Homo sapiens: one gene and its partners. The protein of the gene in region 3 interacts with the protein of the main gene of each other region in a pairwise test. Each region holds a gene or a part of one and is shown on either strand. Other genes may lie near its edges.

Evidence for each region.
Region 1: the proteins of RHBDD1 (region 3) and SLC66A2 interact in binary tests that used the Homo sapiens proteins (3 or more experiments, as listed by UniProt).
Region 2: the proteins of RHBDD1 (region 3) and CGRRF1 interact in binary tests that used the Homo sapiens proteins (3 or more experiments, as listed by UniProt).

Annotation. Positions count from the first base shown.
Region 1 is NC_000018.10:79,927,120-79,934,898, forward strand, and holds part of SLC66A2 (solute carrier family 66 member 2), read right to left. Parts: intron 6,904-7,779; coding exon 6,850-6,903; intron 3,193-6,849; coding exon of another isoform or gene 3,185-3,192; exon of another isoform or gene 3,146-3,184; coding exon of another isoform or gene 3,109-3,145; intron 1-3,108.
Region 2 is NC_000014.9:54,519,511-54,527,289, reverse strand, and holds part of CGRRF1 (cell growth regulator with RING finger domain protein 1), read right to left. Parts: intron 4,837-7,779; coding exon 4,697-4,836; intron 1-4,696. UniProt on the Homo sapiens protein: Able to inhibit growth in several cell lines.
Region 3 is NC_000002.12:226,901,641-226,909,419, reverse strand, and holds part of RHBDD1 (rhomboid-related protein 4), read right to left. Parts: intron 2,628-7,779; coding exon 2,539-2,627; intron 599-2,538; coding exon 542-598; intron 1-541. UniProt on the Homo sapiens protein: Intramembrane-cleaving serine protease that cleaves single transmembrane or multi-pass membrane proteins in the hydrophobic plane of the membrane, luminal loops and juxtamembrane regions.

The DNA of each region.
Region 1 (7,779 bases), on a different chromosome or scaffold from region 3:
CTACCTGCTGCGTCTGCTTCTCCACCCCACTCCAGCTGAGCAGGCAGAGCCTGTCCTTGGAAACGGCCCGGCCACCTGGGAGGGAACAAACAGGCACTGCCCAGACCCGGAGCTGCAGGCAGGGCTCAGCAGGACCCCAGGCGGGCACACAGGGGCTCATCTGGAGGGACCTGAGGGGCACAGGCTACAGTCGGGAGAGCCCCGGGCAGGCACACAGGGGCTCATCTGGAGGGACCTGAGGGGCACAGGCTACAGTCAGGAGAGCACAGACAAGAGGCCCCCGAGGCCACCAGGGCCGACTTTTACTTTATCCTAAGGATCAGGGACGCAAAAGGATTTTAACAAAGACGGCCACACCACCTGCTGCAGAATGAGTATAAATGCCCTTCTTAGCCTTCGAGGCCGGCACTGGCCTCGCTGACCCCTCTAATCCTGCCACCTGTGCAGCAGGCGGCAACAGGGACAGGCAGACGACACAGCTGGGGCCAGAGGACGACGCAGAGAGACCCACATCAGAGACCCTCGGGGAGTGACAGAGCCCCCGCCCCAACCCCAGTGAGTGGGACAGGCTGAGTGGGGACTGAGCACGTCTAGGGCCAGAGTGGGAGGGCCAGCCGTGCCGGCTTCCAAAGAGGACCCCGGGAAACAAACACCCTCCCACTCGGCAAGGACAAATCAAGCAACTGCCGAGACAGGTGTCCGCGTCCCAACCCAAGGCTGCCCAGACAGACAAGCGCTCACCGCCGCACTGCCCTAACAGCTGCTGAGACACATTCCTGCAGCCGCCTCAGCTAGAGCCAGGGAGGCCCTGGGAGAATGGCCTTGCCTGCTCTCAGCCTCCTCTCATCTTCAGGAGCCTTTTCCCCCCTTTACCCTAACTGACATCTCCGGGCCCCTCATTTGCTCAGAGTCTGCTCAGTGGGGCACCCAACGGTGGACAGGTGAGAGAGGTGAGGGGCTGGGCTGTCACCGCGGCCAAGGGAGCCATGGCCCTCCAGCCTGAACGGCTTCTGCCCGAAATCAGGACACAAACACAGCATCATACACAGCAGAAACAGCCCAGAAAGGCCCCAGCCCAGATGGCACTGGAATAAACAGTTTTCCCCAAGTCACTTTAAAATGAAAGTTTTGGGCTACCTACTTCTAAAGAGGACTTCAGGACAGTTCCAGGAGTTCCTCCATGACACACCCCATGGAGAATGCTTGGCTGCTGCGTTTACTCAATGTAGCCATTGAACAGAAACTCAAGAGCGTTGCTCTGCCAGCCTGAAACCTTCTTCATGCTTCCAGCCATCAGGGTTTCAGCCAGGTCAGAAACAACAGAGGCAGTAGGCTCTTCCAGAACAGCAGTGTGAGGCTCTCCACAGACCCTCTCCAGCAACATCACTGCCAGTGGTGAACATTACAAACAGCACCCACTTAAAGTCCCTAACGTGTCTTAGGGACACACGGCGAATGGAGAAACGCTTATCCAAGAAAACCACCTAAGTGGCAGCAGGAACAGCAACTTCGTGACACTTGGGCCACAACCTGCTTCCCCATCCCCATGTGACAAAAGCTCTACTCCCAGCAGGCAACCGAGAAGACAGGCTCCCTCTCCCCCAGTGCCACTGCAGCAGTGGCGGGCACCCGAGCTCTTCATCGCCTGCTCAGCTCCTGTCTGCCCAGGCTCCCTTCCTCCACTCAGCCCCCACCCATGGCGCAGGGGCAGAGGACACTGAGCATCCCTTGTCCCTGCCTCAGCTTGCTCACTGGGAGAGGTTCCACACAAGCAGGGGCAAACTAAGAAGACCAGAGGCAACAACTCACTTCCCATGCAGCACTCAGAGCAGAGCTGTCACCCTCAGAGGACCAGAGGTTCTGTCCTGGGGATGGCGGTATCAGGATAGAGAGCTCCGTAGCTCTCCCTAGAGGGACTCCCTGCTTAGAGCAGGTACAAGTTCAAGTGTAAGGATGCTAACAAAAACAACAGAGACCTCGGCAGCCAGCAACTAAGAGGAGCTAGAAGCTCCATGATGAGCTCAAAGTTTATCAAACAGAACCAGAAAGGACAACCAAGAGGAGCACTCCTGGGAACAGAACCACCACCAAACACTGGCCCCAATGGCCACCCTGCCCAGCTGTGGGGAATACATCCCCCAGGGCATCATCAAATCAGCCAGCAGCCATCAATGAGTGGAGGCCAACAGCTGGTTTGACCACCAGAAGCTTAACGGGAAGATCAGGGAGGGTCACAGCCAGCCAGAACCACCACATCTGAGGGAGAAGAGGCCCAGAGACTGCACTAGTCCAGCCAAATCACAAAACAAACAAGCAAACAGTAAGTCATCCTTCCCCCAAGTGGGGGAATCTGTATCCACAGCTGCTACTATAGTTTACCTAAAATGTCCAGCTTGCAACAAGAAAACAAAATGAGTTATACAAAGAAACAGAAAAGTGTGGTTCACACAGGAAAAAAATAATAAGCAGGACACAAACTGCTTTTGAAGAGGCACAGGTGTTGGACTCAGTAGAAGAAGACTTTAAAATAGCTATTATAAATATGTTCAAATAACTAAAGGGATCCATGCATAAAGAATTAAAAGAAAATATGATGACAACAACTGATCACATAGAGGTTATCAATAAAGAGACAGAAATTCTAAAAAAAAAGAACCAAGTGGAAATTCTGGCATTGCAAAGCACAACTAAAATTTTAAAACTCACTATAAGGGCTCAACAACAGACTGAGCTGGCAGAAGAATCAGTGAATTCAAAGAAATATCAATAAAGACTATGCAACCTAAAGAACAAACAGAAAACAGAATTAAGAAAAAAGAACACAGTCTCAGAGAAAGGTGGGATGACAGGAAAGGGCACCGGCACATGCAGAATGGGTGAGATTGTGGAGAGGAGAGAGGGGAGCAGAAAAAAAAATTCAAGGAGATAATGACTTTTGAAAACTTCCCAAATATGATGAAAATATTAATCCACATACCCAAGAAGCTCAACAAATTGCAAACCTGATAAAGAGATCCACACCCTGACACATCACAGTCTAAATGATGAATGTCAAAAAACAAAGACAAAATCTTGAAAGTAGCAAGAGAAAAATAATTTATCACTTACAAGGAAACCCCAATAAGATTAACAGCTGACTTCTCATCAGAAACAATGGAGTCCAGAGGGCAGTGGAATAACATATTCAAAGCACTGAAAAGAAAAAAAAATCATCAACCAAGATTCTTACATCTAGTAAAACTTTTTTTAAAAAATAAGGGGAAAACAAAGATTCCCAGATAAACAAGAACTGAGAAAATCTGTTGCTAGTAGGCAGACCTTACAGAAAACAAATTTTTCATGCTGAAAACAAGAAACATCAGACGCAATTCAAATCCACATAAAAAAAGAGTACAGGTAAAGACAATGATGTAAGTTATTATAAAAGATGATATCGGTCACATGTCTTCTCCTTTCCTCTCTTAGTTGACTTAAAAAGTAACTGCATGAAACAATATGCATTGTATTGTTTGGGGGCCTTTAACATAAAGAAATGTAATATATTTGACAATAATATTAATAGCACAAATGAGATGGGATCAAAACTGTATTAGAGAAAGAAAATGACTGTAGATGGTAACTCAGTCTCAGAAAGAAATGAAAGGAACCACAAATGGTAAATAAGGTTAATATAATAACTCCATAATATATGTTTGTTCTCCTTTCTTTTCTCAAGTTCTTGAATGACATAAAATGTATATAAAGGAACAATCAGAAAAATATATTGTTAGGTTGTAATATATGTAGACAAAATATGTATAATAATCATACCATTTAAAAAGGGAGGAGGAAATCGAACCATGTAGGAGTAAGGTTCCTGTCACTGGAATTAAGTTAGTATAAATTTGAAGTAGATTCTGATAAGTTAAGATGAATATTGTAAGCCTTCAAGTAACTACTAAGAAAATAATTCAGAAAACATTATTTAAAGAAATTAAAATGTTACATTAGAAAATATTTACTTAATACAAAAGAAAGCTGTAAAGGAGCAACAGCTAAGGGGAAAAGGCATAGGATATACAGAAACCAGAAAGTAAAGTAGCAGATGTAAATCTGAACATATTATAACATTAAGTGTGAATGAAATAAACAATCAAATCAAAGGGCAGAATTGCCAGAATGGATTTTTTTTAAAGATCCATCGTATGTATACAGAAGACTCATTTTAAATTCAAAGACATAAAAAAGTTAAAAGTAAAACAATGGAAAGAATATATCAAATGGCAACCACAGGAGACATGCATGTGATGACACTAACGTCAGAAGACACAGATGTCAAAAGAGAAAATATGCATATACGTCCCTAACAAACAACAGTGCCCCAAAATACATCAAACAAAAACTGACAGAAGTGAAAAGAGAAAAAGATAATTCAAAAATAGTTACAGACTTCCACACCCACATTTAGTAATGGACGTAACAACTACACAGAAGAACAATAAATCATAGACTTGACCTAACAGACAACCCTCCACCTTCACCCAACCACAGCAAAATGCACATTGAATATTCTCCAGGACAGATCATATGCTAGGCCATAAGATGTGCCTCTATTTAAAAGTACTGGAATCTGGCTGGGCGTGGTTGCTCATGCCTATAATCCTAGCTCTTTGGGAGGCTGTGGTGGGTGGGTGCCCTGAGCTCTGGAGTTTGAGACCAGCCTGGTAAACATGGTGAAAACCCTGTCTCTACAAAAAATACAAAAAAAATTGGCCAGGGACGGTGGCACACACCTATAGTCCCAGCTACTTGGGAGGCTGAGGCACAGGAATTGCTTGAACTCAGGAGGCAGAGGTTGCAGTGAGCCAAGATCACACCACAGCCAACAGAGCAAGATTCTGTCTCCAAATATTAAAAATAAATAAATAAAAGTACTGGAATAATACAGAGTATATTCTACAATTATAATGGAAATAAATTTGAAATCGATAACAGAAGACATTTTGGGATATTCACAAATATGTGGAAGTTAACACATTCCTAATAAGTGGGTCAAAGAAGAAATCTTGGAGTAAATTTTAAAATACTTTTAGGTGCATGAAAACAAAAACACAACACACCAAAGTATAGGATGCAGGTAAAGCACCTGCTTAGAGAGAAATTATGGCTGTCAATAACTACATTAAAAAGGAAGAAAGAAAAAAAATCAATGTTCTAACCTCCACCTTAAGAAAAAGAGTAAATTAAAACCAAAGCAAGCATAAGGAATGAAAGAATATTGGAGTGAAATAAAACACAGAATAGAAAAACAATAAAGAAAATGAACAAAACCAAAAATTGGTTCTCTGATAGGCAATGTGGATGTGTTGTGTTAAAAAAAGAAAGAAAGAAAGAAAGAAAAGAAAAAGAAACACCTTTTAAAAAGTTGGTTATTTGACCAGAACAAAAAATTGACAAATTTTTAGCTAGACTGACCAAAAAAAGAAAGGAAAGGAGGGGATCAAATTACTAAAGTCAGGAATAAAAGAGGAACCATTACTAATGACTTTCCAGAAATACAAAGGATTATAAGGGAATACTAAGAAAAATTATATGTCAACAAATTAGATAACTTGGGTGAAATGGAAAAATTCCAATACAAACTACCAAAACTGACTTACAAAGAAACAAAAAATCTGAATAGACTTATAACAAGAGATTGAATTCGTAATTTTAAAACTTCCCACAAAGAAAAGCCCAAGCCCAGATGGCTTCACTGGATAACTCTAAAAATATTTAAAGAGAAATTAGTGTCAACCCTTTGCAAACTCTAAAAAGATAGAAAAGGAGGGGAACATTTCCCAACTTATTCTATAAGGCCAGTATTATCCTAATACTAAATCTAGACAAAGTCATCACAAGAAAACTACAGACCATCATGTCTTACGAATACAGATACAAAAAATCCCCAATACAATACTAGCAAATAAAATCCAGCAACAGATAAAAAGTGTTAGACACCATGACCACATGGATTTATCCCAAGAATGCAAGGTTGGTTCAACACACAAAAATCAATCAATGTAGTACATCATCATAGTAGAATAAAAAATAAAACCCACATGATCATCTCAACAGACACGAAAAGCATTTGGCAAACTCTTTTATTATAAAAACACCCAACAAACTCGAATAAAAGGGAACTGCCTTAACCTAATGAAGGGCAACTATGGAAAATCCATTAACTAACATCTACTTAGTGATGAAAGATGGAATGCTTTCTCACTAAAATGAAGAATAAGATAGGTGCATCCACTCTCACCGCCTATAACCAGGATAAGCAATAAAAAGAAATAAAAGCAACTACATTGGTAAGGAAGAATTAAAACTATATTTGCAAATGACAGAATCATATATAGAGAATCTACTAAACAACTCTTAGAACAAACCAGTTCAGCAGAATTGCATGATACAAGATCAACATGCAATGATCAATTACATTTCTATAAAGTAGCAATGAAGCAGCAGAACTGAAATTAAGAAAACAATTCCATTTACAATAGCATCAAAAAGGATAAAATACTTTGGAATAAATTTAACAAAGTCCAAAATTTGTCATCTAAATTTTTCTCCTCCCTTCCTGTCTCCCTCCTGCTTCCCCTTCCCGCCCCCATCTCCCCACACACAGAAGAGCATGGACAGGCTTCTAGTAACTACTTCATGCTTGAAAACAGCAGAGCTAGGAGTTGATTAGTTTGCTGTAGACTCGGCCACGCTTGGTAAAGATGACGCACGCACATGCACAGATGGAAGCAACAACAGGAGGAAGTACAGCTGCAGGAATGAAGCAAAAGGAACGTGCTGCGGACAGTGCACGCGCAGGGTACATACCCAGGAAGGACCGCCTGGGGGCAACCTTGACTTCTTCATCCTTGCTATCTGCAGCTACACGTTAAAAAGGGAGACAGAAACAGAAAGGGGAAAAAGACAGAAACATACTGGTTTTAACATGGGTAAACAGCTGTGTTCCCAGAACTTTTTGCATTTCTTTAAAAAAAAAAAAACAAACCAGAATAGAAAGATCACAAGATTTTGGTTTTTGTGCATTAGAAAACCCACTTTCTGAACTATTTTTCTGCAAACCTAACCTCTTCCAATATCATAAAAAAGTGAATGGGGAGAATGGGAGAAAAATTGAGCCAAAAATTGAAAGTTACCACATTTCCATTTAATCTCTCGGGAGAAAGGCAGCATGGGAGCCCGTCACAAGCGTGCTGTGCTGATGGAAAGCAGCCAGGCAGATCCTGCTTCCCTTTTCCTAGAAACTCATCTGTATGCAAGCTGCGGCTGCAATATAGCTGCCCCAGGTCAAAACTCTTCAGAAGGCTGCCTGATAAAGCTGTTTTCAGAGTACACTCTGCTGTAAAAGGACAGCTGGTTCCGCACATGCACTTGACAAGCACCTCTGCACAGACACAGACACAGGGACAATGTGACAGGGACCCAGCACCCTCCAGGGCCCAGCACTGGCAATGACAGGTTATAAGTCAACCTTCCTATCTGCGCAGCCCCAGGACAAGACAGCAGCCAAGGTCCTGGAAAACAGTGTGGCCTCTAGGTGGCTCCTGGGAAGCCCCATGGGGTTTGGGATTGAAGACAGTTGATAAACAAGAGACTCAAATAAGTCCTGGGATCAGAAAGCAGAAGTAGGATCAAAGGTTGTGTTTGCCTGCCCCAGGCAATGTAGACTTAAAATGGAAATTTTGCAAGTGAACAGCTAAAAGCAAATACGAGGTGACCTCTGACCTCTGCCCTCTGCTA
Region 2 (7,779 bases), on a different chromosome or scaffold from region 3:
TTCCACTATCTGAAGACAGTGTCAGTACCCCCATCAAAACTATTCTCCCTTTACCTTTTCCACTTTTTTTTTTGCAAAGAGTTTCAATTTTTATGTATTTTTTTGCCTTCTAAAACTCAGTACACACATGACATCACTTTAGATCAATAGCATTAACAGAATTGGGACGTAGCTGTAAGAAAATTCAGAATCAAAATAAGTGAAGCACATGGGTGTGGTATCTCTCAAACTGTCCTTACCCAGACTATCTATAACAAGCAAATAAAGCGGAGTGTAAGAGACAGCCTTGCAAAAAAGTGAAAAAAATAAGGACTGTAGAAAATATGCTAAGCCACTAAAAAGGGAGAAATGATGGGGCGGAAAAGCCACAAACCTTCTTGAGGAAGGATCCCTGTGAGAGAAGCAGTAATAAAACAAGGAGACCATTCATGAGGATAATAAAGCCAGAGTATTGGGAGATGAAAGTTTTAGGTTGTAGAGAATGGAGGTTCACAAACGCCTCCAAACATGCCATGTACATTGTGTTTTTTTCTAACCCTTTTGCTTTAATGTTAGCTCTTACCAGAGTGAATAAGCTAAAATATAAGGAAGCTATTTACAAAAAGCAGAATTCCTGAATCAAATTAATTCAACTCAACTTATATACACTGAGTATCTAACTTTCAATTTCATTAAAGACTCTATATTGGAGACATGGAAACGCAAATCCAAATATATCATTACATAATAACAACAACAAAAAAATCCCAGCAACCCACCCCTAGTAAACAGAACTAAATGACTCAGATTAAAATCGATTCTCTGGTTTTCTTTTTTTTTTAATTATAAATTTTAAAATATGGCCAGGGCGCAGTGGCTCACACTTGTAATCCCAGCACTTTGGGAGGCCGAGGTGGGCAGATCATGAGGTCAAGAGATTGAGACCATCCTGGATAACACGGTGAAACCCTGTCTCTACTAAAAATACAAAAAATTAGCTGGGCATGGTGGCATGCACCTGTAGTCCCTGCTACTCAGGAGGCTAAGGGAGGAGAATTGCTTGAACCTGGGAGGCAGACGTTGCAGTGAGCCAAGATTGCACCACTGCACTCTAGCCTGGGCGACAGAGCGAGACTCCGTCTCAAAAAAAAAAAAAAAAAAAAAAATCTTAAATATAAATAAAAAGCATGTGTGTTTTTTTGTTTTTGTTTTTTGAGACAGGGTCTCACTCTGTTGCCCAGGCTGGAGTGCAGTGGCATGATCTCAGCTCACTGCAGCCTCAACCTCCCAGACTTAAGCAATCCTCCAGCCTAAGCCTCCTGAGTAGCCGGCACTAACAGGCATGTGCCACCACGCCCAGCTAATTTTTGTATTTTTAGTAGAGATGAGGTTTCGCCATGTTGGCCAGGCTGGTCTTGAACTCCTGGACTCAAGGATCCGCCCGTCTCAGCCTCCCAGAGTACTGGGATTACAAGCATGAGCCACCACGTGCAGCCTCTGGTTTATTTTCAAGTTAAATCAGGTCTCTAGATTATTCACCCTCTTCTGCTATATGTCAGGCAGTTTGGGTACAGTGGTGAAAAAAAGATTTTTAAACTATCTACACATCAAATGAAATAACTTTTTTAAATGTCACAAATATTGTTACAATATTATTTTAATGTTCTGTATAGACATCTTTAATGATACCCACTTTTCCACAGTTTAAACAAATGAATTTTACTCTGTTGAGTATAACTCCTATCAAAATCCTTCTATTTCCCCATAGGAGAAAGATAATAAATGATATGCATCGGTATTTTAAAAATTAAAATATTTCAGTATTCATGCTGTACATCCACACATTTAAATAATTTTTCATGACTTCAGTAATACTACTGTTGGTTAGCAACTAGTGTGCAGGCATAGCTAAGAGGGCTACTTACTGGCTATCTTTTCATTTGCCTCAAACATTCGCAAGGCTGGTTCTATTTGTGACTATTTCTGCCTGAAAAGCAGATTGATGGATTTCCTCACACTTTCTGCCTCACAAGTGCCCTGTGTTTTGCTCACAATGTATCAGCTCTTCTTAGTTTTTCAGTGTATTTTCAGACCTGTGGAACTGTACTGCAGGAAGGAAGGCCTTGCAGCTGGTAGGTTTTTCATTGCGGGTCCTGCTCAAGAGCCAGATGTGACATTGTAGCAGGTTCTAGCCTATGGCCACAGAGGTGGGAGGTTATTGAACCACCACTATGCTGTACACTTGATTTTTTATTTTATTTTTTGAGACAGAGTCTCACTCTGTCACCCAGGCTGAAGTGAAGTGGTGTGATCACGGCTTACTGCAACCTCGACCTCCTGGACTCAAGCAATCCTCCCACCTCATCCTCCCGAGTAGCTGGTAGCTGGGTGTACACTTTAATCAGGCATGCACAACCTACTATCTTTTAAACAAATTAGTTTTATCTGTGTCATATCTCAAAATTTGGTTTTCTCAAGTAAAAAATATCAGAATGAACTGTTATCTATTATAGGGAAGGAGCGGGGAGGGGAGTGGCCGAGATCCTAGTTTCCATCAATTCATAGGGTAATAGTATTTACAGCTAAAGAGGATGAATAAGAAATTTTGTACTTTTTGGGGCCAAGAACAGTGGGTCACGCCTGTAATCCCAGCACTTTGTGAGCCTGGGGCAGAAGGACTGCTTGAGGCCAGAAGTTTGAGACCAGCCTGGGCAACACAGCAAGACCCCATCTCCACAAAAAACATTTTTTTTTTTATTTAGCCAGGCACGGTCATGCACACCTGTAGTCCCAGCTACTCAGGGGGCTGAGGCAGGAGGACCACTTGAGCCCAGGGTATTGGGGCTGCAGTGAGGTATGATCATACTACTGCATTCCAGCCTGGGTGGAAGAGCAAGAGCCTGTCTCGAAAAAAAAAAAAAAAAACATATATTTTTCCTTACAAATCAAGATTTACTTAAGCCTGATGATCTATTTGACTAAGTAAACTGATTTCTGACCAGTTATTAGATTCTGAGAGTTAGAGGCAGGAAAGATGAATAGACAAGAATGGTCCATAGACGCAAGGGAGCAGGACGTTGCAAATGAAGGTCAACTCTGTAAAATACTAGAGAGAGAGCATTAACTCAGCCCTGAAAGGCTCCCACTGGATTTGATGACTGCTGGGGGTCAAAAGTGCAGGGCAGAAGTCGTAATTAGTGACCTCAGAGAAAGCCATTTCAGTAAAGGGATACAGGGAAAAGTCAGACTGCACTGCACTGAGGAGTAAAAATGAAGCAGGCTAAGAGAAGGAAAATGCAAACAGCTTCTAAGAAGCTGGCTGTGAGGGGAAGAAGAGAAATACGGCAGTAGCTAGACTAGGATGAAAAGCAGAGAAAGATCTGGCTTATTTGTTTTCAAGAAACCAGAAATGTAAGCAAGTATAGAAGGGACAGGGTCTCGGCCCAGAAAAAAAGCTACAGAACTGTATCTAGGACTGCCTACTCTTTATTTCTATTGAACTGTCACGAAAGAATTTCAAAGTCCAAAAGTTCAAAATTGAATTCATTGCCTTTCTTTGGAAACTTGCTATTCTTTCTGTACTCCTCATTTTTCTAACAGGATCTGGCTATGGAGGACCCATAGGAAGAACCTGAGTCTTCTTAGACTCCTCTGTTACCTGTCCCATCCTATGCTTTAGCCATAACTACTGTTTCTTTAATGTATCACTCCATTTCTCATCCACGAAGTAAACACCTATCTTCCAAGATTCTACTCAAAAAAAAAAAAGGAGGAAGGAATAAAGAAAAAAAAAGTAAGAGAGACTCAGCATATTCTTTTTTATGAAGGCTTTCCTGAATATGCCTCTTCACCTTAACAAATTTAAGCATCTCTTTCTTTACAATTCTAATGGTTCCTATATGGTCCTGCAGACAACTTATTTTTCCAAGCAAGTACAAAAGCAAACAACTGCCATCTATTACCTACCATCTACAAAAGAACATGTTATATCAAAATAATTTATACCAAAATACCATAGTTTCAGATTAAATGACAATCATTCTGGCCGCGCGCAGTGGCTCACACCTGTAATCCCAGCACTTTGGGAGGCTGAGGTGGGTGGATCATCTGAGGTCAGGAGTTTGAGACCAGCCTGGTCAACATGGTGAAACACTGTCTCTACTAAAAAAACAAAAATTAGCCAGGTGTGGTGGTGCATGCCTGTAATCTCAGTGACTTGGGAGGCTGAGGCAGGAGAATCGCTTGAACCCGGGAGGTGGAGGCTGTAGTGAGCCGAGATTGTGCCATTGCACTCCAGCCTGGATGACAGAGTAAGAATCTGTCTCAAAAAAAATAAAAAGGCAATTGTTCCTCAAAAGGTTAGCAACCTTACGTTAACTGTATTTAGACATAACACATCATTTCTCACTTTACTACAGACCAATAAAAATGGCATAGTGTCCTAAGAGACTTCACTATTAACACCTGTAATACTTCATTCTACTCCTTTGTATACACATCTACCTCTGTTTACTAGGTGATAAATTCTTCAGGAGTAAAGTTTGTAACTTCTTAATCTTTGTATCTGTCATATACAGTACAGCACCTGGAACAACATAGTTGCCCAACAAATGTTTGTTAAAAGTCTAATGAAGGGAAAGAAATAGAGAAAGAAAATAAAAGGGCTAAAAAAAGAGGGCAAACAATGAGAGAAAATCTTTGGAAAACAGCCACCAACTTGTAATTGAAGCTGAAGATGGATTAGTGATCTCTAAGCCAAAAGGATTCTTGACTTGTCTCATTTGCTTTTTGAAAACTCTTGTGCTGAACTGGGTCTCTTCTGAATTTCTCAGAATTACTGGAACATCCCAACCAAACCTAAAAAAAGGTAAAAAATAAAATATTATTTTAACAAATGTTGAAACTTTATGTTATGTGTAAAATCTGTTGTGCTTCATTAGCGATTCCTTTTAGCATTAAGTGTCAGAAAGAGGTTAAATTTCTCAATTTACGTTATTTTAGAGATCCCACAGAACTGCAAAACAGTTGGCCCTCTGTATGAACCAAGTGCACATCAAAAATATTTGGGGACGAGGGGGAAGAATAAAAAATAACAATAAAAAATACTACAAATTCAAAACCAATACAGTATAACAACTGTTTACACAGCATTTACATTAGGTGTAAGTAATCTAGAGATAATTTGAAGTGTACAGAAGGACGTGTGTAGGTTATATGCAAATACTATGTAATGTTATATAAGGGACTTAAGCATCCTAGAATATGGGGGGTGGGTATCCTAGAATCAATCCCCCTCAGATATCAAGGAAGGACTAGGTATTGTTCAGCTGGCTGAATCAACACATTCTTGAAAACAAAGAGTTCTATTGTTAATACTGTTGATAACACCAAAGGAGTATGGAGATTATAGATAAATTATACTTAATTTAACAGCAAACACATGATGAACTTATTGAATTTTTTTAAATGTGAAAAAGAAATATATATTCAAGAGGCAGACTATTGGCCGGGTGTGGTGGCTCATGCCTGTAATCCCAGCACTTTGGGAGGCCAAGGTGGGAGGATCACTTGAGGTCAGGAGTTCGAGACCAGCCTGGCCAAAACATAGTGAAACCCTGTCATTAATAAAAATACAAAAATTAGCTGGGCATGGTGGCGTGGACCTGTAGACCCAGCTACTTGGGAAGCTGAGGCAGGAGACTGGCTTGAACCCGGAAGGCAGAGGTTGCAGTGAGCCGAGATCGTGCCACTGGACTCCAGCCTGGGCAACAGAGCAAGATTTCGTCTCTCAAAAGAAAAAAGAGGCAGACTAATATGATTTATGGGACAACGGAACTTTTTTTTTTTTTGAGATGGAGTTTCATTCTTGTTGCCCAGGCTGGAGTGCAATGGCGTGATCTTGGCTCACTATAACCTCTGCCTCCCGGGTTAAAGCAATTCTCCTGCCTCAGCCTCCCAAGTAGCTGAGATTACAGGCATGTGCCACCATGCCCAGGTAATTTTTGTATTTTTAGTAGAGACGGGGTTTCACCATATTGACCAGGCTGGTCTCGAACTCCTGACCTTAGGTGATCCGCCCACCTCAGCCTCCCAAAGTGCTGGGATTACAGGCGTGAGCCACCATACCCAGCCAGGACAATGGAACTTTTAAAACACCAACTATAGCTCTTCATTTATATATCTTCTACTTTTAAATTTCATGTAAAAATGTAAACTCTGACAATGCCCATGGAACAGAATTAAAAGGAAAATGAAAGGGGCTAAATTCAATTCCCAATAAAATTAAAAAACAGCTACTTTACTCAATTTACATAAAATAATCTAAAATTAATACACACCAGTTAAACTAGGAAATTTTAGTTAAAGACGGCACAGTTAGGAGCCTATTTGATGCACTCCCTTCTCTCCAAATACATATCAGTGATAGATAAAAAAGAAAAAGAAAAATTAAAAAGACCCCACAGATACCTGAGTCCCATATGCTTTAAGAAAAAAGAAAGACTCCGCTGAAATGAGTAAACAAACTGTGGTATATTTAAAGAAAAGAATAGAAGTATTCAGCAGTGAAAAGGAACAACTTATTACTACAATCAAATGGATAAATTTCAGAAACATCGTGCTATGCAAAAGAAGCCTTACACAAAAGAATAAATGCTGTATCCTTCTCTAATATAAAATTCTAGAGCAGGCACAACAAATTTATGGTAGAAATAAAAATGAGAACAATGGTTGCTTCCGGAAGTACAGGAGTAGGACTGACTGGGAAAGAGCATAAGAAAATTGACGGTAACGTTCAGTATCTTGACAGAGGCTTAAGCTGTATAGATGATGTGTTTGATAACACTTGGTAAATGGTACACTTAAGATTTGTACATCTTGGCCGGGTGCGGTGGCTCACACCTGTAATCCCAGCACTTTGGGAGGCCGAGGCGGATGGATCATGAGGCCAGGAGATCGAGACCGTCCTGATTAACACAGTGAAATCCCGTCTCTACTAAAAATACACACACACACACATACACACACACACACAAATTAGCCAGGCGTGGTGGTGGGCGCCTGCAGTCCCAGCTACTCGGGAGGCTGAAGCAGGAGAATGGCGTGAACCTGGGAGTCTGAGCTTGCAGTGAGCCAAGATCGCGCCATTGCACTCCAGCCTGAGCGACAGAGCAAGACTCCATCTCAAAAAAAATAAATAAATAAAAAATAAGATTTGTGTATCTTATATGTAAATGTTACTTCAAAAAACTATAAACGAAAACAAACACTGAACTCTAATCAGTAATATGTAATGTTTTAGAACTTACAGGTGAAGAGTACAACTCACTTTGAAGGGCATCGTGAAATAAGATAGACCAATGTATGGATAAAAGAGTGGATTAATGTGGACAGATATGTAATAGAGAAATTACAGTAAAATGCTGATTGTAGAATCTAAGTGATGGGCAGATGTGTGTTCACTGTGTAATTCTTTCTAGTATTCTGTATGTTTGAAAATTTTTATAATAAAATGCTGGGAACAAATACCTTTATGGATCCAAAAAAAGCAAAGAAACAAAGTAATGAGTAAGGCTATGCCATGGTTTCATGGTTCTCAGTCTGGCAGCAGACAGTGGCAACCAAGCCTTCATGTACTAAGGAGACCAGCATAGGCTGTCTTCTCCAGACAAGGGCCAGAGCCAGGTTTATAACTTGGAACCAGGAGCTGGATTAGGTCAATACAAAAATACGCAGAACTGTCGTTATAAGACTTGGTCCTAGGCTGGGTGCACTGGCTCCTGCCCATAATCCCAGAACTTT
Region 3 (7,779 bases):
AATGCAAAGGCTTTAGCCTAAAATAGGTCTTACGCTTTTAACAGGAAGTCTTTTCTATCTATTTACACAGATACTTAGAAAAATACATTCTTCCTCATTAAGTCACATGGCATTTGTTAGAGGCATGCCTATTTTAGCATCTGACGGTATGCAAGGGTTCCTGAATATACACAGGATGGGCCATGGAGAACTATACACCTAAAACCAACTTTTAACACTTTCCCAGCAGTAGAGTCTCAGACTGAGACTTAAAGAACCAAGGTCTAATATGAATCTTATCACACATGAGAGACCTCATACCAATCATACCATGTTTTCATGCCTGAGTTACCTCCTTCCCTGGCCTTCCCTACCAACCCCCACAAATATGCTCCCTAGGCTACCCTCCATCTAGCTTCCAGGTGTGTTAGAGGCACAGTTACACAACATGTGAATGACCCTACCACAGCAGAAACTAGTAGTATCCTAAAGTACTCTGTAGAGCTGAACACTATAATTTTAAAAATAAGTTAAAATTTATTAAATGAAATACAGTGCCTACCTGAACTATTAAAGTAGTATTGCCGTCCTGGGTAACCAACACTGGAGGAAAAACCGCCTAAACGTAAAAGAAATAAACATTTTAATGGCAGCCATAAAGCTTTAAATGCTAATTGTTCCAGTAATTAGAAAGTTCTCTGGACAAAGCCCAAGGTCATTTCAAATGATTTCTAAACACTTATTAAAATAAACTCCCTTTTGTTTGGGGGCCAGCCCTAACTGGAAAAGAGTGTGTGTGTGTCCCTACAGGGAAAAGAATGTGTGTGTGTGTGTGTGTGTGTGTGTGTGTGTGTGTGTAGTGGAAAATGAAACCCTAATTTACACTCACTGAAGTTCCTTAGTCTTTGCCTGCCAAAGTACCAAGCCTCGGCTTTGATGTCTCTGTACAAGCAGAGACACTCTGGCTAAATGGAGAACCTTCCTCAAAGAAGGTGTTAGGAGAGCCATCCTCCCTACCCTTCCTAGGGGACTTCACTCTTTCTTGTCCCTACAGAAGGCAGTAGGACTGTCTACTCAGTCAATTTGGCACGGCTGAATGAAATGAGAGAGGGAGGGCCAAGGGCCACACCCTCAGGGTGACCCTCCTCTTCCAGGAGGCATCAGACAGCAGCTTCCACATGCTGGGTCGTTTTCCATGGGGTTCCTGTGTCCTTCAATTCTCAGCTCACAGAAAAAAGGCCGAGTTCGCAGGCTATTTGCAAATTGCACTGAGTGTTCTAATTTTCCTATTTAATTTGCTATTGTATTTATTACTTTGAAAATGGAGTGGTGTAGAAATAAGTCACCACTTATTTTTTAAGGCTTTTAAAACTAAGAGTTTAAATATTATAATTAGGGGAAAATCCTCTTTAAAAATTAAACAAAGCACTTGCTTAAATTTCATAACATGTCTGCAAAAAGCTTTACTAACCGCTTCATCATGAGACACAGAAAAAAGAAACAAGACATTAAACTCCCGAGAATCATCTCTTTTATCAGTACTAATGAGTATTAAATTGTATTGAAAATACAATAAAACTGGACATTTTCAATAAATGAAGCTCCCACTGCCTCCTCTAAGTACGTACAGTGGAAACACATTAATAAGCAAACGTGGGAAAATGAGGATCTGCTTAAATGCAACACAGCCTGTAAAAATCAACCAAAAGTGAACACGACCTGCTAATAAAGGTGCCAGTGCAGTGCCTGGAAAGCTTTCTACTATCATGAATATTATATGGTTCTCAAGAATACCAGTCATCAGCACAAACTGTGAAACAAATTATTTATGGTTCAAGAAAAGGTAAAATAGTCTCAGAAGACTTCCCATGAATAAAAGATGAAATAGTGGAACTCAGTCTATAAAACAAGTGTTTGCAAACCAGTTTTCTTACAAGTCAAAATGAGAATCGCATTGAAAATTAAGAGGTCTAAAAAATACAAGTATTTCTAAATGAAATATTTTCATTGAGTATCAATTTGAAGGGAAAAACAAAATTAAAAAAAGCAGGAGCTAAGCTTCAAGCAATAACAGACTTGGTTTCGCCATGCATGAATATATGGCTCATCCACCAAGGACCCGGTCATCAGTCTGAATTCTTTAAAATACTGGCCATGCACTTCAGTCCAGGCTTTGTTTTCTTTTTCACCTTTGCCTTGCACGTATATTAATTCATGGACTATTATAGAAGAATGCATTATTTTAAAGGCACTTTAGTTCTCTGCATTCTTTAGGAAATCGTGGTTTTCTGCGGGTAGCATTAAGGTTGAGGGTATAAATATATACTGATATTTGTCCCCTAAGAAAGTATCAGATTCGAAATTTAAGTTTGCAGCCTCTTTTGTGGAGCAATGTAAGGAACTGCACTGGTTGTTTTACCTTTCGGTTTAAAAAGAAAAACAGGCATATTAGGGAATTCTTGAGCTGAACCACAGGGAAACTTGGGGTTGCTTCTGTTCACATTAAAATTAACATGAACTTCCAAGCTGTTGTCATGCCAAAGGTGTTTTATTCTGTACCTGCACATGCTTCCATGATTTTCTTCAGAGGCCCTTGAGTGTACATTAGTCCAACAAGAATCCCAGCCAGATGCCCAGCGAAGGAAGTCCTAGGAGGGAAGGAGACCCTTTGTGAGTGTTTGTTCTGCTGCTGATTAGAGACATTCTGTCTTCTCATTAGCCCAGTGCATGTCAAATAGTCACAGTCTGCAGGCTTTGTTCCACATCAAGTCTTTTATGCTAAGCAGCATTTAACTCAGTCCAAAGAACAACATCTCCTACCTTAAAAAAAAGTACAATGAATAACAACCACCACATGTTTAAAACGCAACACCCCTCCTTAACCAGGGGAAGTGGGTTGTCTCCTCCAGAGCAGTGGAAGCATTTGGTCAAGACAAGTCATTACATCGCTTTCCGTTTTTTTTCTGTACCTCTTATCACAAAACATAAATAAAATCAGTTTTCTCTGTTTGGCATTAAATCTGGAATTATCCAGCCATTGTGAGGGATGATGTCTATCTGTGTTATGGCAGGGCAGACTGCTGCAGTTTTCTACACCATGGATGAGTGAAGCAGAGAGCAAGTGAAACTCAGCAAAAGGAACTGAGATGCCCACCTGCATCCACCAAAGTTGTCTTCATGTGTATGTTTCAGTCACTCAGAACAAAGAAACATACATTTAAATTTCAAACTTGAAAGATGAGTTAGGGCATGAAAGTGTTTGCGTTAGGGCATGACAGTGGTTTAACTCTTCTTAAACTGGCATCTAAAACCAGCAATTACTTGTAAGATTTATTTTCAGAGGTCTACTTTGACCCAAGTGGCAACACTCTTTGTGGAGTTCCCTGGCTGAATGACCTCCCAACCAGCCTGAGTTTAAGAAATTACTGGCGATTCTCAAAAACCTCTGCTGTTACCACAAAGGGGGGGGTCCTACACAACGAGTTGTTCTTTAAGCACTTGACCTCAATTTCCAGCTGCCCGCCACCCTCTAGACACCCCCGCGCACACATGCACACATCCACTAGCACCTTAAACTAGACTTTTCTGGGGTGCCACTCCCACTTCCCGTTTGTAATGCCTCTCATACCCCTCCCAGCCTTCCCATTCCTACTGCCACAACCATGCTTACTGCCATCTGGACTATTTGGAAATGCCCAGTGTTGGGCACAGAGTGAACCCCAGATGAATGTGTGTTGAATGAATAAAATAAATGAAAGAAAATCATCCAGCTGGTCTCCCTGCAAGCCAGCTCTTGCTCTCCAGTGCATCCCACACACGGCCATCAGTTATCCTCCTGAGGCAGAAGGCAAGTGGTGTCATTGCCATCCTCTGAAATCCACTGGTTCTCACAGAATACTCCGGTGTGTGTTTAAGCCCTTCCAACACTTGGCCTTGCCCATCTCTGCAAAGTCAGAGGGTGGAGACCTCATCGTCTACTACCTCCATTCCCACATGCCCCACTGTCACATCCCCCAAGCACTCTCTGACCATAGGCTAAGCCAAACAGCACCTCTGTCAAAAAATGCCACCCCAGTTGAAGAGCCGTTCTTTCCTTCTCCTGCCTCCCCTCAGAGCTGAGGCTCCTACCTTATTCTGGCACGAAGCCAGTCTGCTGGTGGCACAGTACTTACACGTCTGCCTGCCTGTCCGTCTCTCTCTGTCACACACAAACTCCCTGAGGGCAGCAATGGTGTCTCATTCATACATTATACAAAATTAGAAGCTTAAAAAAAAAAAAAAGCCAAGCAAATGAACGCATTCCCACAGCCTGGAATAGTGACCTCTCATTCCAGAAGGTGGGAAACTGAAAGTTATGAAAGAGCCTGATGGAGACTCCAAGAACATAGCCTTTATGTGGCTTTTACATATGTATTCCAAACACCCAGGACAGGGCCAGGCACATGAGAGGCACTCAAGGATATGTTGAGTAAATGGCTCAAGTGTGCCAGGACCGTTTCACCAAGACCAACAGGAGGTAAGTTAAAACCACTAGATGTTCAGCTCAGGGTGCTTGCTGAGCCACGGCAATCACAGAGCTAAGAATCCGCCATTTGGTAACCTACACGAGACTCAGAGTCAAAACCAATACATTTCGCCTACTATGGCAGCAGCCTAGGGGAGATTCCCTGAAACACCACAAGCAAGATGGTTCTGAGTAATTTTCTTTGTCTCCAAGCTATGAAAAGACTCGCTGGCTCTCAGGAAAAGAACATGCAATGAGGAACACTTGAAAGAAAGAGACAAACAGGAGCCTTGTAAAGAGAACAGCATTGATGCTTGTTCCCATTAGCTGACTAAATGACACTATTGCCCAGACAAGCCCTCACATACATGCACACGTGCTAAAAGTCATGGCACATGCATGCGCGTGCACACACACACAGACACGCACACACACCACATACACGATCATCCCCTCAGGAGAGCATTATTTTCATCAGATATATCTACTGAAACAGGAGTTCCCTGACCCCCCTCCCCCCCCGCTTGCAGGATGTGCCACAGTGGTGTAACTTGTCTGTTTGGTGACCGTGCATGCTTAAACCCCTTACGGGAAGGGGAGCACACAGATGGGCAGGTGCAGGAGCTGGGATGAGTGCCCCTAGGCTTCAGCCTCACGGCAACGTCCAGGGGTGTGTATCTGCGACTCCTGAAACCCAAGTGGGTGTGTGTTACAGTGCGCTCTTTTAACCTTGCGGTCCACAGGCAGCTTAAGGGTTAGACAGCTCAGTGAACCCTCTGCCTTTCCACAAAGGCAGAGGGCCAGTGTGAAAGTTTTCTGTTTCCCTGTTTCTTCTCTGGCATCCAGGAAAAATCAGATCACACGTGGACTTGAAGGATGAATGTGGGGCTTTTATTGGGTGATGGAGGTGGCTCCCAGTGGGATGGATGGGGAGGTGGAAGAAGGATGGAGTGGGAAGATGGTCTTCCCCTGGAGTTTGGCTGTCCAGTGACATATCTCCTCTCCGATCATGTCCAGGTAAACTCCCTCTTAGCATTCAGATGCTCCTTCTCTCTGTTGCGCCGTTCTGCTATTCTTCTGCTCTTCTGTTCATCTCCTTGTCTCCTTCTGGAGCCTGGGGTCTCAGGTTTATATGGATACAGGAGAGGGGGGTGTGGTGGGCCAATAGGCAGCTTTTGGATGCAAAAACAGGAATGCCTGTTCCCATTTAGGGCTGTGGGTTTCCAGGCTTGAGGGTGGGGCCTTTGCTGGGAACCGCCCTCTTCTACCCACTGTTTCTGCCTCCTGTCCGTGTCACTACTTCATATAATAAAATTATGGGATTGAACATTTTTTCCCATTTTCTGGCAAGAATAGTAGGAACTATGCTTTTAGCTCCCCAGCCAAGCTAAGAAATTCTATAGTCACCCCCCATTATCTGCAGACCCCCAACTGGATGGCTGAAACCACAGATAGTACTGAACCTTATATATACTATGCTTTTCTCATCTCATAATCATAACAGCTACTAAGTGACTCACGGGTGGGTAGCAGAGACAGCATGGACACACGGGGCAAAGAGATGATTCACGTCCTGGGTGAGACGGGGTGAGATTTCACCATGCTATGCAGAGCAGTGTGAAATTTAAAACTTATAAATGGCTTATTTCTGGAATTTTCCATTTAATGTTTTTGGATCAAGGTTGACTGGGGCTAACTAAAAATGCAGAAGGCAAAATCACAGATAAGGGGGACCACTGTACTTATTTTATTCTATGCTCAGGCTCAGTACAATCGGCCACCTATTAATAGTTGTAAAAATGACAAAGAAAGTGGCAGTTTGAGAGATACAAAGAAGTGGCCAGGACCAGTTAAAAAAATAATAATAACTTCAATTTAGATGAAAAGAATATAATAATATTGGTATTTCTGAAACTCTGGTTTCAAATCAACCTTCATGGTGAAGCATATATGATATAAAATAACATAGAAGGAAGTTTCAATTTAAAACTTCAACCTATTAAACAATTAATCTTGAATCTCATTTACAATTTAGAGTACAATACAGTGAAATGAATTTCTTATCTATCTCTAAATGGTTTTCAGAAGTTTGAGTTATAATCTAATTGCCCTAATATAATTTCAAATATCTAGGGAAGGGAGGCTGGCAGTCCGGAGAACTCATTGCGTCATCCTCCAACATTCAGCATTTTCCACAAAAGTTCCATCTCAAAAATTTAACTGGTCTTGTTTCATTTAAGCTTTATAAAAGTGTTCAATTTTAAAATAAAAATGAGATTATGATCTTATTCAATCAAAACTGAGAATCTCTCAACATCACACACATAAAAAAACAGGAGAATGAATTTCACCAATGTAAAAGGAATATAAAAGTCATTTTAAGAGGTAAATTAACTTTCTCCATGCCCTTGGTAACCATTTGACAAATCACTTCCCTTCACCCTCTAAGAGATACCCACATCCTGAGCGAGAAGATAGATGGACCTGCAGACAGGGAGAAAACTGAACTGGGAAGGTGGTTCTCACCAGTCCTAGGGTTAGGGCACTTTACCCCTGAGCTGGGGGTGCTGTGGAGACAGAAAGAAGCCCTGGGCTTTGGGGGAAGATGATCCATCTGAATGCTCTGATCAGTGGCTGGGATCTACCTTCAAACGTAACAGCATCAAAACCAGACAGTATTGTTACAATCATAATTAGATGTGTTAAACAGAAGTTGTGAAGCTTGTGGTCTCTGAATAAGCCTGTGGCTTCATTCTGTTCTTAGCTCCACGTGGAAGATGCCATCCGAAGCAGCATTCAGGGACAATCCTGCAACTAGGAACAACTTCCTGTTGACCTTACTAGGTCTTAGGCTAGGACTGGGGATTTGGTTATGACCTACCACCCTCTATCCTATTCAGAGTAATTCCTTCTGGGACAGGACCACCACCAACTCTACATCCATGACCACAGCAACTACAGTAAACGGCCTGACACTAGCACTCAGTACGTAACTATCAGATGAGAGGAAGAGTGGAATTTCAATTACACATAAAATACATGTATCTAAAATACACTGTATTAAAAAAATCACAAGTTACATTTGTATGTCTCTTTTAGAAAAATGTCTAGTCAAGTGCTTTACTCATTTTTCAATTGGGTCATTTATTGCCAATGAGCTATAGTTCTTTACATATTTTGGATATTAGTCCCCTATTAGATATATGGTTTGCAAATATAGTCTCCGTTCTGCTGGATGCCTTTTCATTTTGCTATTTCCTTTGATATGAATGGGCAACAGGTACATGAAAAGCTGC